Linked DNA regions of Homo sapiens. The protein of the gene in region 2 interacts with the protein of the main gene of each other region in a pairwise test. Each region holds a gene or a part of one and is shown on either strand. Other genes may lie near its edges.

Region 1 (15,655 bases), on a different chromosome or scaffold from region 2:
CAATAAAGAATAGTGCATATTTGTAAAGGACCACATATATATATATATATATATATATATATGTATATATAAGGAAATAAGATATTGTTATAACAGCTTGATCTTTTAAAACAGCATGAACCATTACAAAAAAACATTATGTTATCTGGAAAAAATATGTAAAGTATCAAAATTAGAAATAATAGAGAAGGCCCACCCAATCCTATCACCCATATTTAATATATTTGTATTTATATTACTATCTCCATTTTATAAGTCTTTTATAAACCTTTTAAAAAGGGGATAATACTAACTATCTCACAGGTTGTTCTGAGGACAAGACTTAATTACATATAATGTGCCTGACATACGAAAGATTCAAGGAATACTACCAATTATTGTTATTCTTTCAGAATGTAGTTTTAAAACAAAAATTTGGATTGTAGTATATTTAATTTTTTATAATCTTTCATTAAAAACATTTCCTGCATTTTCCTCCATCACTAATATTTTTGTATAATACAACTGGCTGTATAACATACTTTGGTCAATAACGCATACATTATAGTACATTAAATATTTTAATAATTAAATTTTAATAAAAATATTAATTAATAATATAAACCTCTATATTCGATATTTAGATTGTTTTCCTTTATAGATTAATTTTTAGTATAATAAATAATGCTAAAATAAATATACTTTATACATATCTCTGGCAATTTCCCTAGGATAACATATCTGGAGGTAGAATAATAGGTCAAAAATAGATCAACAATTTTAATTCTCAAGATGTTAGTCAAGATACTGTAAATTCTTCTGCCACTTCCACACCAAACCATGGAAATGTTAGGAGATTTAAAATATATATATATAGCCATGCTGAAAACAAAAAGGGAACTCTCTAAGGGCCAAGTCAGTAAGGCCCTTCTGGGGAAAGGAAACAGATGGGAAGCTATAGAGATGATGGCAACCACAATCACAACAGCAAAACGATGGGCAGGAATCCTCTCAGAGGAGATTAATGCACAACTGAGAGTCCTCAAATATCTGAAGAAGGCTACACTATGAAAGAGACTGAGCTAAAGAAGGAAATCTCATCCATGAAATAACACACAATTTTGAAAAAAAGCCAGTTAGCTATCTTGGATATAAAAACAGTTGTTGAAATAAACTCAATAGATGACTGAATGACAGAACAGACTAACATGAAGAGCCAGTTAGTAAGCTGGAAGACTGAGTTGAGTAATTCACCAAGAACACAGAGCAAGGAAACAAGAGGAGGCAAAAAATTGAGAAAATGGAGAGGAGGCAATAATGAGCAAGAATTTCTCAGAACTGGAAAACACATAAGCAAACTGAATCCACTGAGTACCAACCAGGATAAAATTCTTAACACACATCGCTAGACAAACCGTGACTAACTTCAGAATATCAAAAACACAAAGTCTTAGATGTTTCCAGAAAAATGTAGATTATCTAAAAGGAAGGTGTATTAGACTAGTAATGAGATTTCTCATCAGAAATGTCAGATGCAAAATGTTAAAGCAAAGTCAGTATGAACCCAGAACTCTATATCCAGCCAAGCTATCTTTCCATACTAAAGATGAAAAAAAGACATTTGCAGACATTCAAAGAGTCACTCAGAGACTGTGAAAGAAATAAGTATCTGATGATGAAAAATGAACCTATAAGAAAGCACTGAGGTATACGTAGCAATAGTGAGCAAATAAATGAGTAAAACACATTAATGTTAAATGTAAACTGAATTTAATAACAAATGAAAGAAAAATTCTTAAAGATATCATGAGAGATTATGTTCTTTTCTGGAGGAGAGATGGAAGGGATTGTTTCAAGATGAGAGAAAGCAAAGTAGAAGCATGCTAACTTCTTCTTTACAGGGGCCTTATCAAAACTGACTAAATGTACACTTTGTTAAGAAAACATAAATTTAAGAACTGTGAAATGTAAAGTTAATCAACTTAAAAAAAAATGAACAAAGAAAACTTGGGGCTAACCTCAATTAAAAATAAAAGTGATGCCAGCGCTTTGGGAGGCTGAGGTGGGTGGATCACCTGAGGTCAGGAGTTCAAGACCAGCCTGGCCAACATGGCGAAATCCCATCTCTACCAAAAATACAAAAATTAGCTGGGTGTGGTGGTGTGTACCTGTAATCTGGGCTACTTGGGAGGCTGAGGGAGGAAAATTGCTTGAACCTGGGAGGCAGAGGTTGCAGTGAGCCGAGATCACGCCACTGTACTCCAGCCTGGGCAACAGAGCAAGACTCTGTTCCAAAAAACAGGTGGAAAAATAAGATATAAAAGATACAAAGAGAAGCTTGTTAAATAATGACAAGAATAAGGCCAAAATATGTCAATAATCACAATAAAGGTGAATTACCTATTAAAGGGCAGACTCTCAGATTGGATGGCAAGCAAAACCCAGATATGATATTTTAAAATAAGAGACCCACTTAAATTACACAAAATGTCACAGCAAGGCTGAAAACGAAGAGACTGGAAAAAGACATCTGCAATTATAAGAAGAAACGTATCAAATAAGAGTTGAATATGAAAATCAATAAAAGACACAAATATTTTATGCTGACAGAACAATTCACCAGATTTAATATTCATGACCCTTTATGTACAAATAACATCACTCTGAAATATATAAAGCAAAATTAAAAGGAAAATGCACAGATCCACAATTTGGTGATGAAGTAACAAATCTAAGGAACTGAGATAAAGTGGGTAAAAAACCAGAGTATAAAGGATTTAAATGACAAATTAACAAGCTTAATCCAAAAAATATATAGAACCCTGCACCCAACAGAAAATACTTCTTGTGGGAGGAAAAGCATGAAATTTACAAAAACTATTATGAGACCAAAAGGAATTATCAACAAATTCCAAAAGACTGTTTACACAGAGCATAGTCACTGAATGTAGTAAATCAACCCCCCACCCCATACTACCTGCGGAAATTAAAAAATCAAATTTCCCAAATAATGTATATGGTTTACAGAAGAAATCAAAGGAGAAATTTAAGAACATTTAGAAATGGTGATCGGTTGAAGTAATACATTTCAAAGCCTGAAGGATTTTGCCAAAGCAGCATGCCAAGAGATATTTAGGCCTTAAATAAATTTTATTAGCAAAATGAAAATATTGACTTAAACATTCAATTAAAGAAGCTGGGAAAAAAGCAACAAAATAAATAATAACAAATGAAGATAGATCTCTAGCTACTGAAGAGATTTTAAACATTTTAAAATTCAGACAGTTTTATGTCAATGAACCTGAGCACAGACGAACTGAACAATTTTCTAGGAAAATATAAATTACCAAATAGGCTCAAAACACTGAAGATATTACTAGAGATGTGTGCCACACATCCCCACCCCTCACTGCTAGTTCACTAGGTCCATTAAGTTTTACAGATGAATTGTACAAAACTTTCAAAGAATAGATAATTTTTATCAAACACAAACCTGTTCTGAAGCAGGAAAAATATGGGAAGCTACTCAACTTTTTCTTAAGCAGTTACTCAATTTTTTTTTATGAGATATGAAATTTTTTTCACTGCTAGTACACTAGGTCCATAAACTTTTACAGATGAATTGTACAAAACTTTCAGAGAACGGCTAATTTTTATCATATACAAACTGTTCTGAAGCAGGAAAAATATGGGAAGCTACTCAACTTTTTTTTATGAGATAAGTATAACCTTGACATGCAAGAAAAAAACTCAAGGCCCAAATCACTACTGGGTCTTAGACACAAAAATACTGAATAAAGGTATCCAGCAGTAGAATAAGAATGTATTACCAAAATAGTTTATCCCAAGAATACCTAAAAAGTTTAACATGAAAAGTTTATCAATGTGAATGCTTATATTAACAGGCAAAGGGAGGAAAACTATCACTTCATGCAGAAAAACAAAACAATTCAATATAAAATTATTCCATGGAAGGTGGGGGGGCCCCTTAGCAAATTAGGAAAAAAGAGAACTTTCTTATTCTGATCGAGGCTATCTACCAAAACATCCTACTCAATGACAGCAAACATCATACTCAATGATGAAACATTCGGAGAATTTTTATTAGGCACAAGATGAAGACAGTTGCTATCACTGTTTTTATTCAATACTGTACTGGAAGTCTTAGAGAAATTCAGTAAGATAAAAAGAGGCCTAAAGATTGGCAGAGGAAAATCCATCTGTAGAACAAATAAGTTAACAAAAAGTCAAAAGCCAAGCAAGAAGCTAAGAGAAAATGTTTTTAACATATTTTAACAATAGCAACAAAAAGGAGGCATAATTAACCATACACACCAAAGAGACTTCTAAAAATACAGTATCGAGGACACATAAAGAACTTAAACATGTTTTTAAAAAACTATAGAAATGCATATAAATTATAGGTTAACAAACATAATAGACACTTCAATCTTAGATCACAGAATGAAAATTAAAATTAAAAATATAATTTGCAGCCATCACTAGGCAAAAATGAAGAAGATAATATCTCATGTTAGTCTAAACTGTAGAGAAACTTAACTCTCATAAACTACCTGTGGAACATGTAAATTAGTAGAGGTATTTTTGGAGGCAAATTTAGCATGACCTATTAAAACTAAAAATGCTCACAACTTAAAACCAAGCAATTCCACTTTTAGGTATATATCCTAGAGAAATAGCACATGTGCACAAGAAAACACAAAGATTTTCCTTGCAGCATTGTTGTATGGTGAAAAACTGGAAACCTAATGTTCTCAGAGAATGGCAATAAAATGTGCTATACAGCACACATCAAACAAAATAGGATTTAACAACAAGACCAATAAAAGAGACAAAGAAATGTTTTATATTAACAGATCAATTCAGTCATACACTGGAACACTATGCAGCAGGTAAAAGAAATGATCCATAAATAACATAATGAGCTATAAATAACATGTACAGGCTGCAAAAACAATGTCAAGAAATAAAGCTACAGAATGATGTAGTATAGTATTTTTCCACTAAAAAATTACAAATGTATATATTCACCTATATAGAATATGTAACAGTATTAAAAGGTGTAAGTATTAAAAAACACTTGAAAGCTCTGTACCAAAGTCTCCAGCGGGAGTAGGGAGGGAGAGGAGTGAGGGAACATTCCTTGTACAAAACTTTCAAAGAACGGAGAATTTTTATCATATACGAACTTTCAAGAAGGAAAAATACGGGAAGCTATTCAACTGTTTTTATAAGTATAACCTTGACACGCAAGAAAAAACTCAAGGTCAAAATCTGGATTGTGCTCTTTATCTACAAGGTACCAATTCTGTAAAAGAATGTAAAAGTGTACTTAATTTTTAAAAATTAAGTATATATAAATGTTCAAAAAGGAATTCATTTTAAAGCTTTTTATAGCATATTGTCAAACTCTCTTCCAGAAAGGTTCTACCAATTTATACTTCCACCTAAGCACACTCAGTAATAGTTTTATTTTTTTTTAGACATGAGGTCTATGTTGCCCAGGTTGGTCTTGAACTCTGGGCTCAAGTGATCTGCCAAAGTGCTGGGATTATAGATGTGAGCCACCCACCGCGCACGGCCATAGATTTTTTTTTTTTTTTTGAGACGGAGTCTCGCTCTGTCACCAGTGCAGTGAGAAGGGTGCAGTGGCGTGATCTCGGCTCACTGCAGCCTCTGCCTCCCGGGTTCAAGCGATTCTCCTGCCTCAGCCTCCCGAGAAGCTGGGATTACAGGGGCCCGCCACCACACGCCCGGCTAATTTTTGTGTTTTTAGTGGAGACGGGGTTTCACCACGTTGGCCAGGCTGGTCTTGAACTCCTGACCTCAGGTGATCCGCCCGCCTCAGCCTCCCAAAGTGTGGGGATTACAGGTGTGAGCCACCGCGCCCGGCCCATAGCTTTGTTTTTAAGCAGCTCTCACCAGCGTTCACACCTGAAAATTTGAAAACTGAACGTGCACAAGTAAAACATGTTTCCTGGAGAAAATCTGCAAAATACAATAAAGCATAAAGGAGAAAATTTAAACACCATCCCATCATCCAGAGACAACTGGTGTTAATATTTCAGAGAGTAAATGGGCTTAAAAAACTTTTTTCCCCTTCTCACTTTTTCATTTTGGTAGAAAAATAATTAAGCCAGTCTGCTTTGCTTCAATGTATGGTTCCTTTTCGTTTCTAAAACAGGCTTTAAAAACACGTTTACCATTTCCTCTCGGCTCCTTACGTTTTAATTGTAACGACAGAACCACGGGTTAAGTCACGCTTAAGAACCACGGGTTAGTCACGCTTCTAACTACTTCACGTGTTCTTATTTAATCCCCCTAACAGTCATGTGGGTTAAATTAGCAGCTCGTTTGCTGATGAGGAAGCTAAGGAATGCCATACCGTAAGTGGCAGACACGAAATAAGGAACCAGGCAGCATGGTTTCAGAGCCTATGCTTTGGTTACTCCATTTGACCTCTTCAAATTTACTCCTCTCCTTGGCCTCATGTGTTAGTATTTACAGAGCTCACTGCAGGTTTCCACATGCCAAAGAGCACAGTTAATTACATATCTTTCCTTACTTAATTACTTATTGGGCTGTGGCTGATAGCGAGTCAGAAGTGTTACTATCTAATCTGAACTCCATGATCTTGGATGAATGACTGAACTTGCTGTATTTAAGGGCTCGTGTAATCTTACCTGTGAAATGGGCTAGTGGTTTAACCTTCAAGTTCTGCTTCTGGGTTTTATACTGCTGTCCATTTCCTGCCGCCCCTTTGACAACCTCAGGTTCCCAGCAGCTTAGGAATCACCTCTCATTAAGGCTGCACCCTGAGACAGACAGGCTGAAATGGAGGTTGGAAACTCAGTGCGCCCGCGGCCCCTTCTGCAGCCAGGACTGCACTTGGGTGCCAGGAGAAGGGAGGCTGCAAGGGCTGGGGTCCAGCCCCTGCTCGGGCGGCCGAGGGCTCCGCGGCGTTTTCAGCTCCTCCAACCTCCCGGCTAGAGGAACTGTCGGGGGCCAGCCACGGCGGTGCCTTGGTTTCACCTGGCTCCGCTGCGTTTTCTACGCCGCCCGCCTGACCTGAGGAGTGAGCTCCGCCAGCTCCGTTGGCAAGGCTGGGTTCCTCCGCGGGTGGGGCTCTCCTCCGACGCCAAGCCGCCCAAACCTCCCGAGCGCAGGTGCCCTCTGGCCGGGAAGTACTTCACCATTTACTAGCCTTCATCTCAACCACAACAGTCCCGCCCTGCCTCTACCGGGGATGAGGGAAGGCGTAACCTCCGCCGGGGACCAGGCCGACCTACCTAAACCGATCACTACATGGGAGGAGTCGGACGCCGGCCGTCCCACCACCCAGCCAGGAGCCCATTGATTGGTCGCACTCCCCACTGGTTCACGCCTCAGAGACTCGGCGCACTTACCGCTGGCACCGCAGTGGCGCCCGAGCGCGCCGCCTCCCGATTGACTGCTAGCGCTCTCGGCTTGTCTCGCGCACTGTAGCTGAGCCAATGGAGTTACTCGTAGTCGAGAGGCCGGCATCACTGGAGTGGTGGCGCAGCTGTTTCCTCCGGTAGGTGTGAGGCTGCCATCTTGTGTGTGGCTGGGACTGGGCTTCTTGGGGGTTGAAAACATACATAGCGCCTGGCCGTAGTGGAGGGGTCCGGAGAGAACAATGGGGTAAAGGAGAGGCCTAAGGGAGGAGACCCAGCGCCTTCCTACTTGCGGAAAGGATGGGTTTCCTGGGCCTGAGTCTCATCCCTGGCTAGAGAGAGCGAGGAATGGTGGTGGTGGTGGTGGTGATGGTTGTGGTGGTGGTAATAGTAGGGATCCCAGGTTTTGGTTTGTTGATCATTGTGGGGGCTGGGCGGGGCCTTTGATGCCTTAACATTGGTTCCTGGGAGCTCTTTTAGTAATTTTTGTCTCGCAAAGATTCTGACCATCAACCCCCTTTGACAAAGGAGGCTAGCTGATGAACTGCCTGATTGAGAAAGGAGCAAAGCTAGTAGTGGAAGGGGAGTGCCTCTCTACTATCCTCAGGTTCAGAAGAGACCTCCTCTTCCGTCCTTTTCGAGGGAGCGGCTGCTAAACAGTTTGCTCTTCGCGGGGGTTACTTTACTAAGGCCATCCTTTGGTAATAGTGGGCGTCAAGTTCTGCGTTTGGGCAAAATTGTACATTAGCGGGCAGCCAAGCATTCCTGCAGCTGTCTTTTTTTTTTCTTTATTTTAAGCTAGAAAGTGGTGGTCTTGCAGAAACGGGGCGTGAAGGAAGAATTTTGTCAAATCTTGATTTCCCCGATAACGATATGTTGAAGATTATAAATCTCTGGGTCTGCCATGACATGCTTGGTCACTTCATGGAGCAGGAGGAGGCTTTGTTAGGGAAAGCACCTTAATTTCTGAGCTCTTTTTGGGGTAGGAGGAAGAAGACAGGACTTAACCTTGTTTCCCTCCTCCTTTTTTTTTTTTTTTTTTAGCATTGTTGTGGATGGCATTGCATTGTCTTTCATTTGAGGGGAAAATGTATTGGATCTGAAGACCAAGCTGATGAAAGGCTAATATTTTGTGGTAGATTTTAGCAGTTTGACTTGCATGAAAAGAAAGCCGATGTATTATTGCCTTCAGCTTAGATTTCAGTTATTCAAGATTAACTGATGAACAACCTAATCAACAATACATGATAAAGACATCTCGCATCAGGAATACCAAAAAACAAAACAAACAGCAAAATAATTGATGTTTTTTTTTTTTTTTTTTTTTTTTTTTTTTTTGAGATGGAGTCTCTTGTCGCCTATGCTGGAGTGCAATGGTGCAATCTCGGCTCACTGCAACTCTGCCTCCGTGGTTCAAGCGATTCTCCTGCCTCAGCCTCCTGAGTAGCTGGGACTACAGACACCGGCCATCACGCCCAGCTAATTTTTGTATTTTTAGTAGAGATGGGGTTTCACCATGTTGGCCAGGCTGGTCTTGAACTCCTGACTTTAGATGATCTGCCCGCCTCCACCTCCCAAAGTGCTGGGATTACAGGTGTGAGCCACGGCACCTGGCCTGAGAATCATTTTTCTTAATTACTTGATTCCATGCTTGTATCTTCCACTTGACTTGTATCTTCCAGTTGGCTTGTCAAAATGCATGGAGAAACAAAAGTTCATATACCTTTTGACCTTTTCTAAGAAACTTGTAAGGAAATAGAGATAGAATCAAAGCTTTATAATCACAGTGTAATTTTGTTCTTGTGAAAAATTGGAAATAACAAATATCTAATGGTAGAAGAATGGTTTTATAAATTATGACACATCCCATCATTATATTTTTCAGCCTTTTAAAAGGAACGTTTTCAAAGAGTAGTGGCATAGGCTGTTGAATGACATAGGAAAGTGGTTACCATTTTGTGTTAAATGAAAGAAGTATAGAATAGTCATTGGGAAAATGCAAATTAAAACCACCGTCATTGGAAAAATGCAAATTAAAACCACAGTGAGATACTACACAACCTCTTACTCAGAATGTCAAAACAAACAATACATTTCCTGGCAAGGATGCAAAACAAGGAGAAACCTTAGTCTTGCTGGTGAGACTGCAAATAGTACAGCCACCTAGAAGACAATTTGACAGTTTATTATAAAATTAATCATATCCTTATCACATGATCTGGCAAGCCCACTCTAGATTGAAATTTACCACCAAGATAAGAGAGTTCCAGTAGTTTTTCATCCTTGTCAGCACTTGGCATTATCAGTTAAAATATTTAGCCTTTATATGAGGTATGATGGGGTATCTCATTGTGGTTTTAATTTCCCCTTTGATGATTGTATGCTTCTCTGATGAAAAGTGAAATGAAAACCTATATTGGCTGCTCTGCAAATATTTATAGCGATTTTATTTGTAATGGCCAAAACTGGAAACAACCAGATTCCACTAGGAAATAGATTTTTTTAAACTCCAGCATGTCCATACAGTGTAACATAGGAACCTCCTTTTTATTTTCTTTAGAGATGGGATCTCGCTATGTTGCCCAGGCTGGAATACAGTGGCATGATCACAGCTTACTGCAGCCTTGACCCCCCAGGCTCAAGTGAACCTCCCTCCTCAGCCTCAAGAGTAGCTGGGACTATAGATATGTGCCACCATGCCTGGCTAATTTTTTGGAGAGATGGCATCTTGCTATGTTGCCCAGGCTGGTCTCAAACTCCTGGACTCCAGTGATCCTCCTGCTTTGGCTTCCCGAAGTGCTAGCATTATAGGCATAAGCCACTGTACCTAGCCGGGAACCTCCTTTTAGTATATAGTTATATAAATATATGGGAAAAGGGAATATATATATATATATATATATACACTAAATCATTATAAGAAAATCATCAAAATAAGCCATAAAACATTGCACGAGATTATGAAAACATACCCCAAAAATGTGGCCACAAAGCAGATGAAAATGACAATCTAAATATTTCAGAGTAAGCTAAGAGAATTTAAGGAAAAGATGAAATCTTTGAAAGAACCACATAAATTCAGAAATAAGAGCTCAGACATGAGATACGTAGGAAGTTCTAGCCAGAGCAATCAGGCAAGAGAAACAAAAGGCATCCACATAGGAAAAGAAGTCAGACTATCTCTCTTGGCTGATGATCTGATTGTATACCTAGAAAACCCTAAAGACTCCACCAAAGGCTCTTGGAACTGATAACTTCAGTAAGTTTCAGGATACAAACTCTGTACAAAAATCAGTAGCGTTTCTATACCAATAATGTTGGAGCAGAGAGCCAAATCAAGAATGCAGTCCTGTTTACGATAGCCATACACACACACACACACACACACACACACACACACACACACACACTGCCTAGGAATACCTCTAACCAAGGAAGTGAAAGATCTCTACAAGAACTACAAGACACTGCTGAAAGAAATCATTGATGACACAAACAAATGGAAAAACACTCCATGCTCATGGATTGGAAGAATCAATATCATTAGAATCGCCATACTGCCCAAAACAAGCTACACATTCAGTGCTACTGAATGTGTAGCTTGTTTCAAATTATACTTTGAGGCTACAGTAACCAAAAAAGCATGGTACTGGTACAAAAACAGACATATAGGCCAATGGAGCAGAATAGAGAGCCCAGAAATTAAGCTGTACACCCACAGCCATCTGGTCAACAAAATTGACAAAAGGAAGCAATGGAGAAAGAACTTCCTATTCAATAAATGGTGCTGGGATAACTGGCTAGCCATGTGTATAAGACTGGGCTTCTACCTTACACCACATACAAAACTGGACTTCTACCTTACACCACATACAAAAATCAATTCAAGATGGATTAAAGATTTAAATGTAAGAACTCAAACAGTAAGAATCCTAGGAAAAAATCTAGGAAACATTCTGGACATCAGCCTTGGGAAAGAATTTATGACTAAGTCTTCAAAAGCAATTGCAACAAAAACAAAAGTTGACAAGTAGGACCTAATTAAACTAAAGAGCTTCTGCACAGTAAGAGAAACTATTAACAGAGCAAACAGATAACCTGCAGAATAGGAGAAAATATTTGCAAACTATGCATCTGACAAAGGTCTAATATCCAGAATCTATAAGGAAGTTAATTCAACAAGCAAAAAAAAAAAAAAAAAAAACCCATTAAAAAGTGGTCAAAAGACATCAACAGACACTTCTCAAAAGAACAAGTGGCCAATAAACAGATGAAAAAATGTTCCACATCACTAATCATCAGAGAAATGCAAATCAAAACCATAATGAGACATCATCTCACGCCAGTCAGAATGGCTCTTACTAAAAAGTCAAAAAACAACAGATGTGGGCAAGGCTGCAGAGTAAAGGGAACACTTACACACGGTTGGTGGGAGTGTAAATTAGTTCAGCCACTGTGGAAATCAGTTTGAAGGTTTCTCAAAAAACTCAGAACTACCATTTGACCAGCAATCCCATTATTGGGTGTATATCCAAAAGAAATTGTTCTACCAAAAAGATACATGCACTCATATGTTCATCATAGTGCTAGTCACAATAGCAAAGATGTGGAATCAACCTATGTGTCCATCAGGGATAGATTGGTTACATATGAACCGTGGAATACTATGCAGGGAAGGAATGCAATAAGTGTTGAAAAACTAACTGTTGAGTATAATGCCCAGTACCTGGATGACAGGATCTGTCATACTCCAGACTTCAGCGTTACACAGTATACCCATGTAACAAATCTGCACATGTACCCCCAAATCTAAAAGAGAACTTGAAATTATAAAAAAGTAAATAAAATTCACCTCTTTCTATGTTTTCAGGGGAAAAAAAGAAATGAGATGGCTAGACCATAGAAGGAGGTGCAATGAGAGCAGACAAAACTCAATAAAAGATTAAGAAAAAGACAGTTTAAAGTGATGATTGCATTAGAAACCAAGAGTGAATATACATCACAGAAAGTACGATAAGAAAAATGGAAAAATGAAGAAAATAAAAAGATTTTTAAAAAGGAGTCAAGAGGTGACAAGACAGGCAAAGAGAGCCAGAATAAATATAAATGGAGTTCCCCAAATGTAAGCCCAAGGATAGTGGTGATGTTTATGTAACACTGAATATACTTAATGCCACTTATTGAATACTTTAAAACAGTAAATTTTATGTTCCTTATTTTACTACAGTAAAACAAAGCAAGCCAAAGCAATGGACCAGAACAACTATTAGGACTGTAATTCAAGAACGCTTAACATTAAAGTAGGTTTAAATGTAACATATGTTGAAAGGCATACTGTAAACCTGGAGAAATCAACCCACAACAGTTAACACTGAGATGTGGTCCTGTAAAATTGTTGGATTTTTAAAAATAAACCCTTCTTGCATTGATGGGGGAAATAAAAAGAGCAGGTCACTTGCAAAGAAAATCAGATTGGATTTTTGGTGGCAACATTTTATGTCAGATATTAAGAAAGTATTTATTCAAAGAAATAAAATAATTCCTATCTCACCAAACTACCCTTCAAGAATTCAGGGCATTGACAAACATTTATAAACATGAAATAATTCAAGGAAAATGGCTATAATTGTTCCCATGAATCCTTCTGAAGCGTATACTAGAGAACAAATTTCAGACAACCAAGAAATGATTGGAAAATCTTCAACATAAGGTCAGGTGGTGAGCAAATCAAATATATTTTGTGTGTAGCATCAAGATTAAAAGATGAGGATAATGATGATAGAATAGTATATAAATATTACATGGTCTGACATTGTAGAAATAATATAACCCGCAAAAAAATGGGAGGAAAAGAGGAGGGTGAATGAGAAGTAGAATAAGGTTGTTTGCCTTTTAGGCATTAGCTGGGAGAAAAAAGCCCTTGAAGCTGACAGGTGGAAGCTTAAACATACTCAGAAGTGCAAGATAGAACACTAATAAAAATAATACCAGCTGGACACGGTGGCTAATGCCTGTAATCCCAGCACTTTGCGGGGCTGAGGCAGGAAGATTGCTTGAGCCCAGAAGTTTGAGACCAGCCATCCTGGGCAACATGGCGAAAGCTTGTCTCTTAAAAAAAATAAAAAATAAAAAAATTAACTGGGCGTAGTGGCACACACCTGTAGTCCCAGGTACTTAGGAAGCTGAGAGAGGTCGGAGGATCTCTTGAACGCAGGAGGTCAAGGCTACAGTGAGCTGTGATTGCGCCACTGCACTCCAGCCTGGGCAACAGAGTGAGACCCTGTGTCAAAATAATATTAAATAATAACCAGCAATTTGCAGGGAAGCTTAAATTTCGCTTCTGAAGGTTTGATAACTGAGTTGGCTGAACTAAACTAACAGTAGGTTAACAAGAGAAAACCCATACAAATTTATTGATATGTAAGCATACATTAATAGCTAGCAAAATGTCTATGGGCATGCAGGGAAATCAACACTGCAGTCTAGCAGAATCCATGGAGAAGTGGCAAGCAAGGTGGAGACTGTAAAAAAAGAGGAGAGGTTGCAGGACCTAGGGGTAGCAGAATACAGATAATTCCCAGAAAGAGAAAGCCCCACCCTGGATAGAGAAGTGAGAAGAGGTGTAAGATCCATTAGACAAAATAAGAGACTTGAAAGAAAATGAGACCAAAGACGCAGTCTCATGAAAGTACTGCTTCTGGGGAAAGGAAAGAGGGTGCCTTGGAAGGGTCACCATCTACCTGGAGGCTTGGTGATAGAGAGAAGGGGTAGTAGAAATTAAGGATCTTGGTGAACCAGAATAGAAAATAGATACTCATTTCTCCCACCCAAAAAGGAGTCATTAATTAAAAACAAACAAACAAAAAAACACTTTATTAGGTACTATTTACTAAGAAATCCAGTTAAGTCATCTAAATTCCTTGCTTCTGCCTATACACAACTATATCTGGTTTAGGAAAAATAAAATATTTCAAGATGAACAGAAGATGGCAGGCAACATCCATATAAAGTTACTTTAGCTGGAAAACAAAATGATAGTCAAAACATTTCAACTGGGCTGGGCACAGTGGCTCACAGCTGTAATCCCAGCCCTTTGAGAGGCCAAGGTGGGCGGATCACTTGAGCCCAGGAGTTCGAGCCCAGCCTGGGCACTATAGTGAGACCTAGTCTCTACAAAAAATAAGGAAAAAAGTTTTTAAAAAATTTTAGCTGATGAAAAGTCTTCCCGAAACATCCAACTATAGCACTAAAGAAAACTACAGCACAGTACTCCTACCAGAATTTAAAATATCCTTAAACTAACATTTGTAGAGATAAAAAGTCTCAAATCCAAATTCAAAACTGCAAAACAAATGGACAAAAAGAGGAAGATATGAAAAGTGAATTTACTGAACTCAGGAAATAAAATAAATCAAAAGAAAAATCAGCTTTTAAAATGAAGTTAAAGCCAGATGCAGTGGTGCATGCCTGTAGTTCCAGCTATTTGAGAGGCTTGAGCCCAGGAGTTTGAGGCCAGCCTGGGCAATATAGAGAGACTCCTGTCTCAAAAAAAAAAAAAAAAAAAAAAAAAAAGTCATAAAGAAAGAAATGAAGCTAAATTCCAAGGTACATAAGAAAAGATTGGACTGAATATAAGGAGCATTGAGAAAAGGTATGAAAACAACCAAGATAATGAAAATTAAATGAAGAAAGGTTAAAAAGTAATAGAAAGTGATTGATATAGAAAATAAGTAAAAGTAGAGTTCCTAAGAAGAAAAAAACAATAGCAAAGCTAATAGTTAAGTTTCAATCCATGAAAACATTCTGGAAATAAGAGATGACTCCAATCTACATGTTGAAAAGGCTCATTGTGTACTGGGAAAATTGATCCAGAATGGTCAGTTCCAAGTCATGTCCTAGTAAAACAGTTGGACTTTCAAAATGATGAAGAAAAATTCCTCTGGGCTTCCAGACAGAAAGGAGAGGTTAGCAACAGACTTCTAAACAGCAACATACAAAGCAAAACAGCCATGGAACAACATGTTTAAAGTCTACGAAAGTATAAGCCAAAGATTTTATAACTATGACTCATTCTTAAAGAAAAACCATGATAAATCCTACTATATTAATAAAAAAGTATTTAAATAGTGAAAAATGCCACGAGCAAAGTCAAAAGGCAAGCGACAAAGCGGGGAAAAATATTTGGACTTATATCACAAAGAGCTAACCTCCTGGATGAAAACACCTTCGTAAAATTCCAG
Region 2 (16,018 bases):
GAGTGGCTCATTATAAAAAATATGTCAATTATCTGGGAATACATCTGTAAATTCAGTTCTGTTACAATCAAAGTTCCATCAGATATTCTACTGCCACCCCCTTGGAATTTAGCAAGCTGGTCTATATGAAAGAGCAAAGGTCTAAGAAAGCCAAGGTAATCCTGAAGGAAAATACAGTAACATATTGATTTACTTTAAACCTATTCTAATTAAAACTATGGTATTGGTATAGTATAAACAAACAGATCCATGAGTAGATGAGGGCTCAGTATATGACATGTGGTACTATTAATCGATGGGTATCACACACTAATGAAGAAGGGACTTTAACCATATGGAAAAACAATTAGATCTCTTCTGCACAAACAAAAATCAATAACAAGTGGATTAAAGATTTAAACATGAAAAGAAAAACTAAACATGTTTATGAGAAAATAAAGAAGGTTTTCTGACATGGAAGTATGGAAGAATTTTTCAAACAAGCAAGCAGATACCAAAAAAATAAATAAATAAAAAGATGGATATATTTGATTATATGTAAAATTTACACATTTCTGTATAACTAAAGGAGAAAAAAAAAGACACTTGAAAGGTGTTAGGATTATTATCATAAATATTCGAGTAACTCCTCACTTCCAAAAATCAATTAGAAAATGACAGAGTCCACTGGAAAACTAAACAAATATAGTCAGGCAATTCACAGAGAAAGAGAACAAAAGCCAATACATGCATACAAACTGTTTCCCCCATAGTTCCTAGGAAAATGCAAATTAAATATCATTTATTAAACATTTGCTTGAAATCAATTTAAAAATCTGATATCTGGTTAAGATGTGTCCAACTCTCACATGCTCCTTATAATAACTTTGGTAGGAATGTAAATTGCTGCAACTGCTTTAGAACATTTTCTGCAATTTCTTGTAAAACTGAGGAAGCATACACCTTGGGACTCAGCTCTTTTCAGTTCTGGGTGTCAGATGGAGAAAAATATCTCCAATAAGAGCACAAGTTATATACGAAAACTTTCAGCATTCACTGCCTTTGGCAGTGAAAGATGACAAATAACCTAATTGTAAAGGATGTGAAATCGTTACTCATACAAGGGACTCCCACATAACAGTTAAAATGAATAAACTACATGAATTACGTGAATCAACATGAATAAATCTCAAAGACAATCTTAAGTGAAAAAAGTTGTAAAGGTTATATAGTATCATCATTAAAGGTAAAATTTAAAAAGATAAGATAGTACATAAGATTTACAGATGAAACATGAATATATACTAAAATATACATAAGAGTAACATATATCACATTTGTGGATACTTCTGAGGGGAAAAAACATTATTTTCCCCAAAAAGATTTACAGAAAATAAGGTTTGGTGACATGTACATAAGTGCTTCACTACTGTCCATACTTTCTATTTGAAATTTTTCATAAATAATTTTCAAAGCAAATTAAAAAAAAAAGTTGGATTCTCAAGAAAATATGCAACCAATGCAACTCATTAGGAAAAAATCTGCTGTTGAGAAAAAATGTGAACCACTGAAATCTGAGTGGTAGGGAGGGACTGTGAAGTCTAGGATTCAGCAATTTTACAAGTGTTTTTAAGCTTTGCAAAATTAAAAAAAAAACAAAAACTGGAGAGAAATCTTAAACACATTTTGATATGGTTTCTGCAGAGAAAAACAATAATCAGCAAAATCATATAAAAAGAAGACTCTGGCCTCAGGTAACAAAAAATGGCGAATAAATGTCTGTGTTTTAGGTCAAAATACTGTATTTACAAAGTTAAAAAATAAAATACACTTTAAAGTGTTAAAATATGTTACTGAACATTTTAACTGAAAAAAGTTTTAAAGCTGGTAAAAACAGAGTATATTTATATTCATTTACTGTGTTTTAGTCAGTTTTTAAAATGAACTAATACAGGTCCCAATCAAATCAGATAAAATGGCTTCTATCACAGTAATAATTAGAAAAGTTTCTTCTAGCCAGGCATTGTGGCTCCTGCCTGTAATCCCAGCACTTTGGGAGGCCAATGTGGGTTGATCACTTGATGCCAGGAGTTCTAGACTAGACTGGCTAACATAGTGAAATCTCGTGTCTACTAAAAATACAAAAATATTAGTCAGGTGTGGTAGTGCAGCTATATGGGAGGTTGAGGCATGAGAATCGCTTGAACCCAGGAGGCGGAAGTTGCGGTGAGCCGAGATCGTGTCACTGGACTCCAGCCCGGGCGACAAAGCGAGACTCTCATCTCAAAAAATAAAAAAATAAAAAAAATTTTTTTTTTCTTCAAACAGATAATTGGATTAAGATAAATTAAGGAGGAGAAAAAGGAAATCAGAGGTAAAGTTACAAGGCAACGAACTATGTGGCAATGTATATTAGCAAATAAGGGACACAATCTGGCTTTGACCTTTCTTATTTTTTATATATATTTTTTGAGACGGAGTCTCGCTCTGTCGCCCAGGCTAGAGTGCAGTGGCGAGATCTTGGCTCACTGCAAGCTCCACCTACCGGGTTAACGCCATTCTCCTGCCTCAGCCTCCAGAGTAGCTGGGACTACAGGTGCCCGCCACCACGCCTGGCTAAATTTTGCTTTTTTTTTTTTTTTTTGTATTTTTAGTAGAGATGGCGTTTCACCATGTTAGCCAGGATGGTCTCGATCTCCTGACCTCGTGATCCGCCTGCCTCAGCCTCCCAAAGTGCTGGGATTACAGGCATGAGCCACCGTGCCTGGCCTGACCTTTCTTAATACAAGGGAAACTAGGACAACTATCCCTCATCACTGTACAGAAAATAATGCTTAGTATTTTGTTAATGCCAGAGATTCTTTTTATTTGGAGGTAATCATCACCAGTTTTTAGCCACAGATCTATAATGGAACTTTTTTTGCCATAAAGCTATTTCCTAATATTCAAAACTTGGGCTACCATGGTCATATTTGATAGGAAAAGCATCTTGGATTTAGGAAACTAATTACTTTAGAAACCTTATCTGTCCATAGTAATAATACATTTTTACCCTTTAGGGTAATTTCATTTACTCTATTAATTTTAATTTTAGGTAAAAAATTCTTTTCCTTAGTTATTGGGGAGTCTCTGTTCCATTAGTTTCCTTTATTCATGGCTAAATTACTACAAAATTCAACAGAGTTCATCATGATTAAAGGAAACTAATGGAATAGACTCTGTAACTTGTGCCAGTGAAGTTGAATACCTATTTCTGAAATTCCTGGCCTCAAGTGATCTTCTCACCTCAGCCTTCTGAGTAGGTGGGTCCTGTAAGTTGTTTACAGGAAGTTCAGTTTTTCTTAGTAACAGGCAGCACATTGAGCTAGCACCAAAGATCTCTACTTACTGGATGCAGAAAATGGGGTCACCAGACTTGGCAAATAAAAAACGCAGGATGCCCTGTTAGATTTGAATTTCAGACAACGAATTACTTCTTTACAGGATCAGCTCATTTTAAAATTAAAATATCCTATCTGATAGAAGACATTGCCAACTGTGATAAAAACTAAATTTTACACAGATTAAAATTCAGCGGCAAACTAATCCCACTCACTTGAGTAAAACTGCACACACCTGAGTAAAACTGCACACACCTGAGTCAAGGTAGTTTTAAAGTCTTCCATAGGTTAGCTTTCTGATCTACGATTAGGCAGTTTGTTCACATACTGTCAAAGAGTCCAAGTCCAGCTAGCTCAAGGAACACCAAATTTCAGACACTGATCCTAAGTGGTCACTGTTTGCATTCTAAAAATCACACCCTCTGGTTGTTCCTCCTCTGTTATATTCCTCAATGTTCTCATTTCCAGCTCTTTCTGACTTCCTCCTATAAGCTAAAGTTCTGCATTTGGGCCTGTTTCCTAGCAACTGTTTTTGCTCATTTTGGTCTGTGTTCTGGCAATGTGGCCTACAGTTTATATTTTGTTTTCTTCAAATGACAGTCCAGCAAGTTCATATTGTTCCTTTCACCTACAGTACAGTGCTATGTTCTTCCATAACGATGATTTATCTGGCCCCTTCCTTAATATAGTTGGAAATGCATTACTGTTTACTCTCCCTGAATCAGCACTGGCATCAGCTGAGACCTCAGTAGAAATACAGAATCTCAGTATCAGCTCCAGACCCAATGAGTCAGGATCTGCATTTCAAAAAGATACCCAAGTGATTTGTAAGCACATTACAGTTTGCTATGTACTGCTTCAGATAATTCAATTAAAAAATTTAAATTTAAAATGTTTTGATATCTTCTATATTTTATAGAAGATAGCAAAAAAGAGTAAGAAAAACACAGATATGTATTTGCCTTACAGGAAGTCTAACTCTAGGGAAGATTATTGAGGGAGAGGAGATTTAAATTCGATACACTAAGGACAGAGAAAAACATCTGCTTCAATAGAAAACTGCACTGTTGAGAGCACAGCCTTTCAGGTTTTCACATTCTGATTACATGGGAAGTCTGATTCTTTCAGCATCTTGGAGCTATTTTACAACTGTCAACTGTAGATAACCAACAGCAATGCAAAATAATTGTCTGTATTCTTGTAAATTCTATCTGCTGAAGGTTCAATGGACTTCCGTCTGACTGTGGAAGCAGCCAATTTTGCCCTCACTTGCACATTTATTTCAATATTCCTGCTCTATAAACATGTCTACTTTTAATTGTCATTTAAACTGGTTATAGCATCTTACCAGTTCCTATTTTAATAATCTTTTAACGCAAGAAAAGATTAATTTGCTCCAAACACTTTGGTCAATATAAAACCTAGTACTCTTCATGGAAGAAAAAAAATCCAGCTTCTTATAGGATAACAAGCAAACCAATAACAAAAACCCCAGTTTTAGAAAGATTCACCATGGTATAAATAAAATCCAGGTTTTCAATACTTTTCAATGTCAAATAATAAAAACACTTTTTGGCAAGTTGAATTTTGCTTGAGCCCTGTGCTGGCTCCTTATTAGCTATAATTTAAAAAATCCTCCCACCCTTGAGTTAGGTAAGACTCAAGGATCCCCCCTTGTTTACCTATGACCAGGCAAAAGAAAGACCCTCCAAATTCTCATTTTTTGCTTCAACTATGAATTTATGAATAATTTGCTGATCTGCTTGGCCCTACAGATCAAGTGGAACAAAATACTTGTTAATCAAACTTTAGTTTCTCTCCTTCCCCCAGGTTCCTGAGCTTTGGCCAACTCTCAGCCAGAGCCAAGGAATAACATTCTCAGATCTACTATTAGATCAAGCCACCCTTATATCCTACTTCCTCACACCAAAACTTTCTAGCACAGTTCACTCCTTGGAGATTCTTGCAGATCTTTTGGTTCTACCCATTGCAAAAGTCCCTTTTCTCCTTTTGTGATAACCCTTTTGAATAAAGTCTCTCCTAAGTCCAGATTTCTTATCTGACATTGTCTTTTAAAAATTCTGCATAGGAGAAAATTAAGACTTTCTGCTGCCTTAGGATTGACATCACTTTACTTTAGTGCCTAAATACAGCATGTTTTGTATTCTAAGATTAACATTTAATATTTTTGTAGCACTACCTAAGAATCAAAAGAGAATGAAATAAATGTAGAATACTTTGATTAGACCTCTCCTACTACCTTAGGCAGTAAACAAAAGTATTTGCTCCTCATACAATTTGAACGCTGCCAGCTCAGGGAATTATCCAGCTTTACTTTAAAACATCAGTAGTTTTAAAGAGTTCTTAAGCATTTTCTCTTGCTGCCCATTACCAAACGGTAAGGAAGGTAGATTAGGTTGAGGAAGCTGAGAAAACTCACACGCGGCCATGATGCTTGCAAGGTCTAGGACATTATCACAGGGGTTTCGGGGTGTTAATGCAGAACACCCCCCCCACCACTAACAAAACAGCAAAACAGCCACTAACAAAACAACAGCAGAGGGAATTGAGGATTAATTAGGGAACTCACTTTTTCTTCCTAAATTTGTAGGGGAGATGCAGAAATACCCGTTCCAATATGTTAATTTCCCTTAACATAGTTTTTTAGTTTGTTACCAGTCTCCTTATTAGTGGGAAAAGTAACATTTAGAGGAAATTTAACAAAACAAAAAATTTACTTCGTTTTTAGGTCAACTGATGTCTCTTTTATGAAAAACATAAAAAAAGTTTTCATGAAATGTTTTATGAAAAAAATTAAAGGCTTTTCTTGGCATAGGGTCTTACAACTTACACAGCGTCTTCCCAGATTATCTCTTATTTAATAAAAATATAATTTAATCTACCCCTACTCCCCAAATCAGGAGCTTTAGTTATGGGTACATACGCCTACAAAAGTCACGCATCCTGCAACTGTGAACTTTTTGTGCCTGTCATCTTCAAATACTGATTACCTATAACATGACAATTGGCCCAAAGGCAAAGAGGAGAGTCTCAATCCTCAGGAAGATCTAGGTACAATAAGAAAGGTAAAGGCAATTTAAAACAAAAATATAGTCCATAACACCATTGAAAAGATTTGGTTCAAGTGTGGTAGTCAGGACATGCCAGGTACAGTGCTTAGGGCAAACATCATTTCAGGAACCTTCATAGCCACCCTGAGGAAAGTACTATCATTCTCATTTACAGATGAAGAAACTCAAGCCTAGAGCTGTTGTTATCATGCCTAACAGAGTGCCCCCAAACCCTGCAATGATTCCCAACCCAACCCTGTAAGAGGCCACATACATTTCTTCCTTAGTTCACGGCTATTTACAAATGACTAAAACCACCAGATCCGTCCAGTGGGCACCTACTAAGTTCATGGTACCGGGATGGAAAAATAAACATTAGCCTTTGGCCTCAAACGGCCAGGGTTGAAAGGATTCTGATTTGAAAAATTAAAAACAAAAATAGCAGAGATAAAGGCTGTCTACGGAGTTCAAGGCCACAATAACCCTAAGTAGTTCACGTCAAAATCGTAGCTTTGAAGGTCCTGGGCCTACAGGACAGGCGACGACCCTCAGAGAGGTCAGAGGCGGCAGAACCTGTGCTGGGCTTTGACACAAGGCGTTGCGTCGCAGATGAACTACGCGGGGGTAGGGGTGAGAGGCCCCGGCCAGCAGCTGGAAATCCCCCTCACGTGTGCGGGCCTCCTCTTCCACCTCTCCCCGGGTTCCCCCGTTACGCCGCCGGGCTCCCTCGCCACCCAGGGGCCTGTCTCCACTCTCCCACTCCTCTCCAGGGCCTCCCCCGTTCCCCTTCCACCTTAGCTTGAGCTCTCCTCCGCCCGGCTTCGGGCAAGATGCGAGTCCACACAGGCCACACTCGACCGACCGCTTCCCAGCCAGTCCCCGCGCTACCACTGAGAGGACGGCAAGCGCGGGCTAGAGGAGCTCAACGCCACCACAAAGAGACGTCCGGGAGAAGCCTAGAGCGGACACGAGGCTGGCCGCCTCCGGGGACGGAAGGGGCGGGGCGGTGTGAAGTGGCAAATGATTCAAGGCGAGGCAAGAGGTGCTTCAGATGCTGTCTTTTGCAGTCCTCCGAGAGGTTAGGGATGTGGGAGGTCCCTGGGGGCCATCTCTTACAAGACACAGTTTCCACTAAATTGGATCGTATTTGTACATCTCTACACCTGTGCGTGATAGTAAACTTTTGCACCCAAATACCCCGACCCCTGAAGGAGAGTGTGAGTTAAAAGGATCTGAAGAACGGACCCTTTGTTTAAGGTCTCACATTCTATTTCTTTAATTCAAGCGAAATATATTCCAAAATGCATCTTTTATTGTAAGCTATAAAAATAGCTATTACTTCGAGTAAAATGTAGGCTCCAGGAAGATGCTTGTAAATTTTCTCAGAACAGAAATGGTATTTTTATTGTATCCTTATTGTCTGTCACAGTATAGGTGCTCATTAATTTTTAAAGTGGGTTTTATTATCTAGAATCCAGGAGAACTGAAAGTCTCTTAAAGATTCTTGGCCTTTTAATTATCTTAAGGTCGGGATAGCAGGGAAACAAAAACTTGTTTTAAACTCCCAGTGAAAAATGAGGAACAGGTAAATAAGACAAGCCCCACCAAGGCCCAAGCGTGCTAGTAATTCTCTGCATCTACTGTAAGCTGTTTTCTGCAGTGCGTCTATGGTCCTCCCACCACTTTCATACTGCTCGCCGACTAGGCAAGCGATTTGATGCCTAGAACTAGGGAATGACAGAAAGGAAAAAACAATGAATAGTTTCTTCAACTGTGTCTGCAGGAGGTTGCATTCTGTAATTCTTTTACTGTTTACTTTGTGGTTGGCACTTTGTTAAGCAATGATTAGACAAAAACAAAATTTATTTCTGCTTCCAAGGAGCTCACAGACTAGTGAGAGAGGAATAAACAGTTAATCACAGTGTGGTGTGAAAAGTGTCATAACAGAAACACATGGATATAAACAGGATAAAATGATAGGGGCTAAAGCAGGAGCGTTCTGGGAGGAGATTAATGCCTGCATGGAACTTAATTTGATGCAATTGTGACTTCCTAGTAAACTAGGCAAGCTATCCTAAAGGTAATGAAACAGAGAAGGCTCACAGATCAAATTAAGATTATTAAATAATATAGCCTATTCAATTTAAGTATCCAGTGAAAAGGTGAAAGAGTTGTGGTAAGTGGACACACTTAGGATAAGGTGCAAGCAAGTGGAAGGACGCCATCACCTGAATCATGGGTTAAGTAATGTTCATATATCCTATCTGCCACAACAGCCTTCTCCGCTGGTGGTATACTTACGAGGACCAGAGGTGAGGTGTCAGCAAGGAGGCCCACAGGTGGAAAGTGCTTTGGGCCAATGGTACACACCTGCTTTATTGGATAGACGCAGAGAAGTATGCCTGGTCACAGCCAGAGCTTACTCGGTAAGTTGTTGAACAGATACAGGTTTTATTTGCATTTCCTGGGCAGAGCACATATGAGACTATTCTAAGTGTGACCAATGGGTGGCTGATTTAGAGGTGACATAGTTAATAGCCCAGAGATGTCATGATTGCTCATTGCTTAGTTTTTCCATCCCTTTTTGGCTATCAGTGACTCTCTATTCCATCATATTTCTATTTAACTTTGGCATGTCTTATAGTTTACTAACTTACTCTATATATTTTACATAATCCTGCCTATGTTTCACAAAGTACATGCTTACTCATATTCTATATTTAAAATATGCTAGGAGTTTTGCATTTATCTCATAAGCTACTAGCTTAGTTACTGTCTATAGTTAACACTTCTTACGCCTTTCATCCATCCCTAAGGAAACTGCAAAGCCTTTCAGTATGGGTAGAGTGGAAAGCTGGAAAGGCGCATAGGTAACAAATAATGCCCTTTTTATGCCATATTAGAGATACTGAATTTTAACCTGTGAAAACTGTAAAACTATCAGGAGTGTAGAGAATAGAAGAGAGGTGCGGTCCTGGGCTAGAGGGCCAGGTGGAAACTCTTGCCCTAACGCAGATGATTAAGAAGAGGGCCTCCATCAAGTGAGGCAGTGGCTCTATGGGTTGAAATGTGATTCCCTCCCACTCACCTCCTCCCACTGGATTTGGTAATGTCTAGAAACATTGTGGCTGTACCAGCAAGGGGTGCTACTAGTATCTAGAGGGGTAAAGGACAGGGTAACTGCTAAACACTTAACAATGCACAGGACAACCTCCCTCCTCCAACAACAAAGAACTAACTGGCTCAAGATTTCAGTAGAGCCAAGATTGAGAAACCCTAAATGAAGGACATTTAAAAGGCATAGAGATGATAGAAGTTAAGTAAGAATTGGTCAGATTTTTTAACTGATTAGATATAGAGGTTAGGAAGTAGTAAATAATTATTTCAGGTTTCTAGCTTGGATAACTGGGAGGTCAAAAGGAGGAATGGGCTAGGGAGAACAGAGATAAGAATTTAAATACTGAATACGCTAAGTTTTCTCAAACTTATCAAATGTACCTCCAAGTGAAGATATACAGCTGGCAGCTGGAAGAAGAGGGCAGGATAAGAGAGGGATCTCAGCTGGAAGATAAGAGTTTTGGGAGATGTTAGTCTGTGAGTGGTAGTTCTATCTTTGGAGCTGGGTGGGATAGGGAAGATGATACCTATGGAATGTATAGGGTAAAATGAGAAAGAATAGGGCTAAAGATTATTCTAAATTTCTGAGCTCTCGTTCTATTTTACTGAATCAGAATCTCGGTCCTCCAAGCCAGTCTACCAGATCATAATATCTGCAGATAAGATCCAAGAATCTGCATTTTTGGCAAGCAACCCAGGTGATTTTGCAGCACACTACGATTTTAGAACAACAGATTTAGGTCTCAGAAAAGTCTGAGAAGGAGCAGACAGCGAGGTAGCAAGAAAACTAGGGAAGAACAGAGACCCACAAACCAAGAAAGGAAAGTTTAAAGCAGGGCTCTGTCGGTGCAAGAGGTTGTTATAGAGCAGTACTGGCCATTAGAAATACAATGTGAGTCACATAAGCCATTGTAAATTTTCTAGTAGTGATATAAAAAGGTAAACAGAAGCAGATGAAATTAATTTTAGAGATAGCGCTTGTTTAACCCAATAATTAAGACATTATCATTTTAACATGCAATTAACATAAAAACTAATGAGATATGTCACGTCCTTTAATTCATATTATGTCTTGGAAACCTGGTGTGTGTATTACACCTCCAGTGCCTCTCAATTTGGTCTAGCTACACTTCAAATATTCAGTAGCCGCATGTGCCTAGTGGCTACCAGAGTGGATAGCACAGGTGTAGAAAGTCAAGTAAGGAAATAACTCATTTTCCAGCTCAGACTGAAATGAACTAGAAGGAAAATAAAAAGAACTAAATATATTCCTTAGCTGTACTAATAAGATAGTTATAGATGGTGTAATAAGACCTGTTTCAGTGATATGGTGATGGTAGAAGTCAGAATATACCCAATTAAAGAGCGGGAAGTTAGAGATGCTAACAGCTACCTGAGAGAACATCTTCAACAAGCTTTACTGTCAAGTATAAAGAGGCACCCCTTTTTTGTGTCTTTGAATGTGAATTTTAAGATTAAAGAACACAATTCAGTTTTAATTTAGGTTTTAGCAATTACATTTGGATTTCTGCTTCTGCAGAATTACCCTATCACTAGAAATATCTGGAAAATTGAGCATAATATGTGAAATGAATTGGGCACGGTAGCTCACAAGTGTAGTCCCAGCTACTGGAGAAGCTGAGATGGGAGTATCACTTGAAAAAAATATATATTTTATATATTACATACATGTATTTACGCATATATATAATATAAAATATATGATATGTATATATCATTTTATATATATTTATATACTGAATATGTTATATATAATATATAAATATATAGATATATAAAATATATGCATATGATAAAATATAATATTTATATTTTATATACATATATAAAATATATATTATAAATATATAATATGTATAAGATATATAATATATACACACATATATACATTCATATAAATCATAAGTATGTATACTTATACATATTTAGGAAAGGGTTGTATATATACATATACACATATATGTATGTATCTATGAAATCATTGTTTTCAGACATTAGCCAACAGGCAGTGCAGTATCGTGATCCCTGAGAGAAGGGAAACGAATGAATTAAGTTCCATAATGACCCCAGCTTACTATCTGGAGGCAGTGTCCAGAGCCTAGAACAGGGAGGGGAACCCAAACAAAAACCGGTGATTTCACTAAATGGAGGCGACAGAGATGGAGGTGACAGAGATGGGAAGTTGGAGAGGCTGATGGGCAGAGTATCTGAGAGGAGGACATGGCACACAGGAGAGTCTTGGACATCTGCAAGAGTGTTCCTTTGTATTGCGTACTTCCCTTTGGCTCTGAGTACTTATCTGTGCAATGGAAGGATGAAACTCCACGAGGCTAGGGAAAAGACACCAAAAAGCAGTGGGCCAAACAGTTTCTAGTACTTACACAGGGCTGGGAATAGTTTGTCTTCCCATAAGCAGGAGCAGATTGACAGACCTTGTAAGAAGCACTTATTTGTTTCTACCAATCAAAGTAACAGTAGGAGCTGGGCCAGGTTGGTCTTTCTCTCTCTCTTTCTGTCTCCACGTGGGCTCTTTGCTTAGGCTAGTTTGGTCTTCCTCACAGCATGACAGCCAGAAGGTAGTTGGATTTATTACATGGTGTCTCAGAGCTCCCAGGGTTTGTGCTCCAGGAAGCAAGGTGAAAGCCTCTTTGCCTTTCATGACTTAGCCCCTGGAAACACATAGCGTCACTTCCACTGAATTCTCTTGGTTATGTGGGAGTCATTGAGCTTGCCCCAGATTCACAGGAAAGAAACATAATCTTTACCTCTTGATGGGAGGAGTGTCAAAAAACATATTTTTTTAAAATGCTACAATACTTATCCTAATGCATACAATAGCATGGTCTGGTGTCAAATCTAATAACTACCATAATTGCAAAGTAGTAATGAATATGAATATATCCTGAGATATCTGTAACAACTATAATGTGACACAAAAAATTATGTGATTTCTGTTGGTGACAAAGTTATAGACACTGTAAACAAAGTTATTAGTACTGCAGCAGTACTAATAGGCACTGCTAATACTATTATTTGTTGCCTGCCTTTTGTAAATAAATGAAATGCTAAATTTCAATTAGAGGTTAGGAAAAATAAAGAGAAAGCTTGCTAGGGACATAGAACAGCATTTAGGACCTAGATGAAGTTAGAGACCATGAATATGCAGAGACATAAATTAATGATGTGAAAATTTCAATTTTTCTCCTAGTGTATAGTTGCCCTTGTGTGGGACCAGTGAAGGCAGACAACAGAATTAATTTAAGCAAGAGCAGTTGACGGTTAGATGTGTAAGAAGGACAAGAGACAAGAGAGTTTAGGGTTTTTTCATGGAAGTCATTAGATGGTGAGAATCATGAGATAAGACATAAGGTCAGTTTAATTTACTATAGTATTCCAGGAGCCTAGCACTATTAGTTGAGTAAGTGGAATTGTTGAAGTGATAAATCTCTTCAAATAAACAAATGAACGAAAGAGGGAAAGCTGGTTGAGAATGAAAAGAAATGGAGCTTTCAAAATCAAAATTGAAGGCAAGGAGGTGAAATCTGTGATCAAACTGAAACAATGAACAGTTGTGGTCAGAGAGTGGAACTGAAGTTTAGGATATCAGCTAGTGAGGTAGTTTCCTGTGAGAAATTCACAGCTTCTCATTAAACGCACTTGGGAAAGTGCAAAGGAGCCAAGAATTAGGAAAAAAGAGAAACATTTGCATGCAAGAATCCCAAGTTTGGGATGAGATGGCATGTACTCTGAAAGGGAATGAGGGGAATGAATTCTTAGTAATTGTTTTCATTTCCTTTGTGTAAGCTTTCATACTGAATTTTGACATACCACAAAGAAGTACACAAGTTCTAAGTCTATAGCTTGATACATTTTTATATTTGTATAACCACTACCCAGGTCAAGAAATTATGAGCTCCCCAGAAGTCTCTTGTATGCTGTCTCCTAGTTGTGAGCACCTTTTACCAAAGGTAACCACCATTCTAACTTCTTTGACCATAGATTGGTTTTGGTTATTTCTGGACTTTGAGCTTTGGAATTGTACCACATATATTCTTTTGTGTCTGGCTTCTTGTGGTCAGTATTATGTCCTTGAAATTCATTGATGCTGTATGACATCGTAAGCAATTAAATATTTGTCATTGCTGAGTGGTATTTCTATTACGTGAAACCGACAACATTTTCTTTTATCTCTTTCACTGTTGATGGACATTGGGTTCATTCAATTTGGGGCTTCTACAAATAATGCTGCAACAAACATTTGAACATTCTGTCTTTTGGTCCACATACATTTACACTTTCATTTGGATATGTAGTAGGGAGTGGAATTGCTGGATTATAGGCAATGTGTATGTTCAGTTTGAGTACATACTGCTGAAGAGTTTTTCAAAGTGGTTGCATCAATTTACATTCCTTCTAGCACCAATTTACACTCATAAACATACTCACCACCACTTGGAGTTCTCAGTTGTTATTGTTGGCTTTCATTTTAGTTATTCTGGAGGGTGCGTAACTAATTGCTTTCTAAAGCTTCAGTATCCTCCTTGGGGCATGAAACAAAACTCTAAGTGGGCTCTGGAATCAGACTGCCTGGTTCAAATCCTGGCTTAGCCACTAGTAGGATAATGTGTAGAAATTACATTAATTCTCTAAGCTTCAAATTCTTATCTGTAAAATAGAGAAAGTAGCATCTGCCTTATAGGGTTTTTGTGGGGAATAAATGAATATGTGTTTGTGTATGTGTGTGTGTTTGTGTATAACTTTTTATATATATAGTTTAGCATAGTGCCTGGCACATAGTGAGTTCTCAATAAGTGGTAGCTATAATTATTCTTGCTACTATTTATGGACCTCCAGTTATGTCTGAAAACACTGGAATGATAAGCTCACATGTATTATCTCATTCATGACATGGTATATTTCAATCTGGAAAGATGGGTATTAAATTTAAAAGAAGTGGAGTCATTATTTGAACTAGTATCCCCTAACCTCACACCCACCTTGGCCTTGCTTTCCTTATAACAATATTTAAGAGTCAGTTGATTTAAAGAAATGTGATATAGGGGATTTAACTAATGACTGGGCAGAAGGACAGATTGAAACTGTGTTTTTCAGCAGTTCTTCTGATTTGTCTCATTTAAAGTAAAGATTTCAGACTGTTGTGGGGGTGGCGTAGGGGAAGGAAATACAGATTTGTTCACAGCTGCTATTCAAAATACTAGCCATATAACTAGGAAAGAATTTGGCTCAAATAAAAACCCCAGGGCTCTTTATTGCCATCACAATCATTATTGTGTCAATTAGGATTCATCTGGGTGTCCACAGTGTGTTTGGCACAACGTCAAGGAAGGAAGCTGATGGTTACAGGAACCATTTTGGTTACATCTTCGAATGACCAAAATGGTGTGAATTAAATGCAGAAATTAATTATTAAAAATTAATAATTCAACAGCACTGGGAACAAAAAAACTAGAACTGGAAAAGGATTTAACAATTCTGTTGCATAGCTTCCTCATTTAGAGGTTGATGAGACTTAGTTCCGTAAATGGTAATGTTATACAACTAACATATAAATGACAATCTGTAAAGCTTGTACAACCAGTAAGTAATAGGGATAGTCAAGACTCACACCCAGGTTGTCTTTCTAAAAATGCAGTGTTTTTCCTACTCAATCAGGCTGCATCTCAATCTGTAAGAATCATATTCTTAGAAAACTAGAAAACATAATATCTATTTATAATATTAATATCAATTACTTCTTTTGAATTGCTCTTTTGGAAAATTGGTCAAGCCACTAGATTCTACTTGTTCTATCTATTTTGTATTAGTCATTATCTGTGATAAGAAGAGAAGGTAATGATGGCTTTGGTGGGGATGCTCTAGCTTTGGTGGAGCTTATTTAGATGAACATTATGAGCATTCTAAATATTTTTGGAAAAAATTACAAAACATTATAGATATTTTTGAGATTCCTTGAAAAAATTTCATATGGGCCTTTGGACAGATCTTTGAAGAGCAATACTGCCTAAAAGCCAGCAGAGGGAGAACAGAACATTGTTTTGCTAATTTTCACTAAGTTTCTCCTCATGCTCTTTTACATTTTATTTTTCCACATATTTAATACATTTCTTGACCATGAGATAATATTATCCTGTCCTGCACTTTTGGAAAGGGCAGAGGATGCTGCTATCATTGAATTAGAGTTTTGTTTAACTCACTGGTCAATAGGCTATCAAATGAGCTGGGTTAGACAGTTCTTAAGCATAGTCGGAGTTTATTTATGTGGCTTTCACATGTTTTTCTCTATAATAATTGTGTCAATTAGGTGATTTTAAATATTATATATAATCAAGTCAATTAATATAGATTCTCTCACCTCCAATAATTACTGCTAAGAGAAAGTTACGATGTAATAACAAGGTTTGGGATTATCTCATTAATGACTTGATGTTG

The links.
Region 1: the proteins of ARL14EP (region 2) and SETDB2 interact in binary tests that used the Homo sapiens proteins (3 or more experiments, as listed by UniProt).

Annotation. Positions count from the first base shown.
Region 1 is NC_000013.11:49,435,886-49,451,540, reverse strand, and holds the start of SETDB2 (histone-lysine N-methyltransferase SETDB2), read right to left. Parts: upstream 7,268-15,655; 5' UTR 6,684-7,267; intron 1-6,683. UniProt on the Homo sapiens protein: Histone methyltransferase involved in left-right axis specification in early development and mitosis. Specifically trimethylates 'Lys-9' of histone H3 (H3K9me3).
Region 2 is NC_000011.10:30,314,408-30,330,425, reverse strand, and holds the start of ARL14EP (ARL14 effector protein), read right to left. Parts: upstream 7,323-16,018; 5' UTR 7,224-7,322; intron 3,421-7,223; exon of another isoform or gene 3,368-3,420; intron 1-3,367.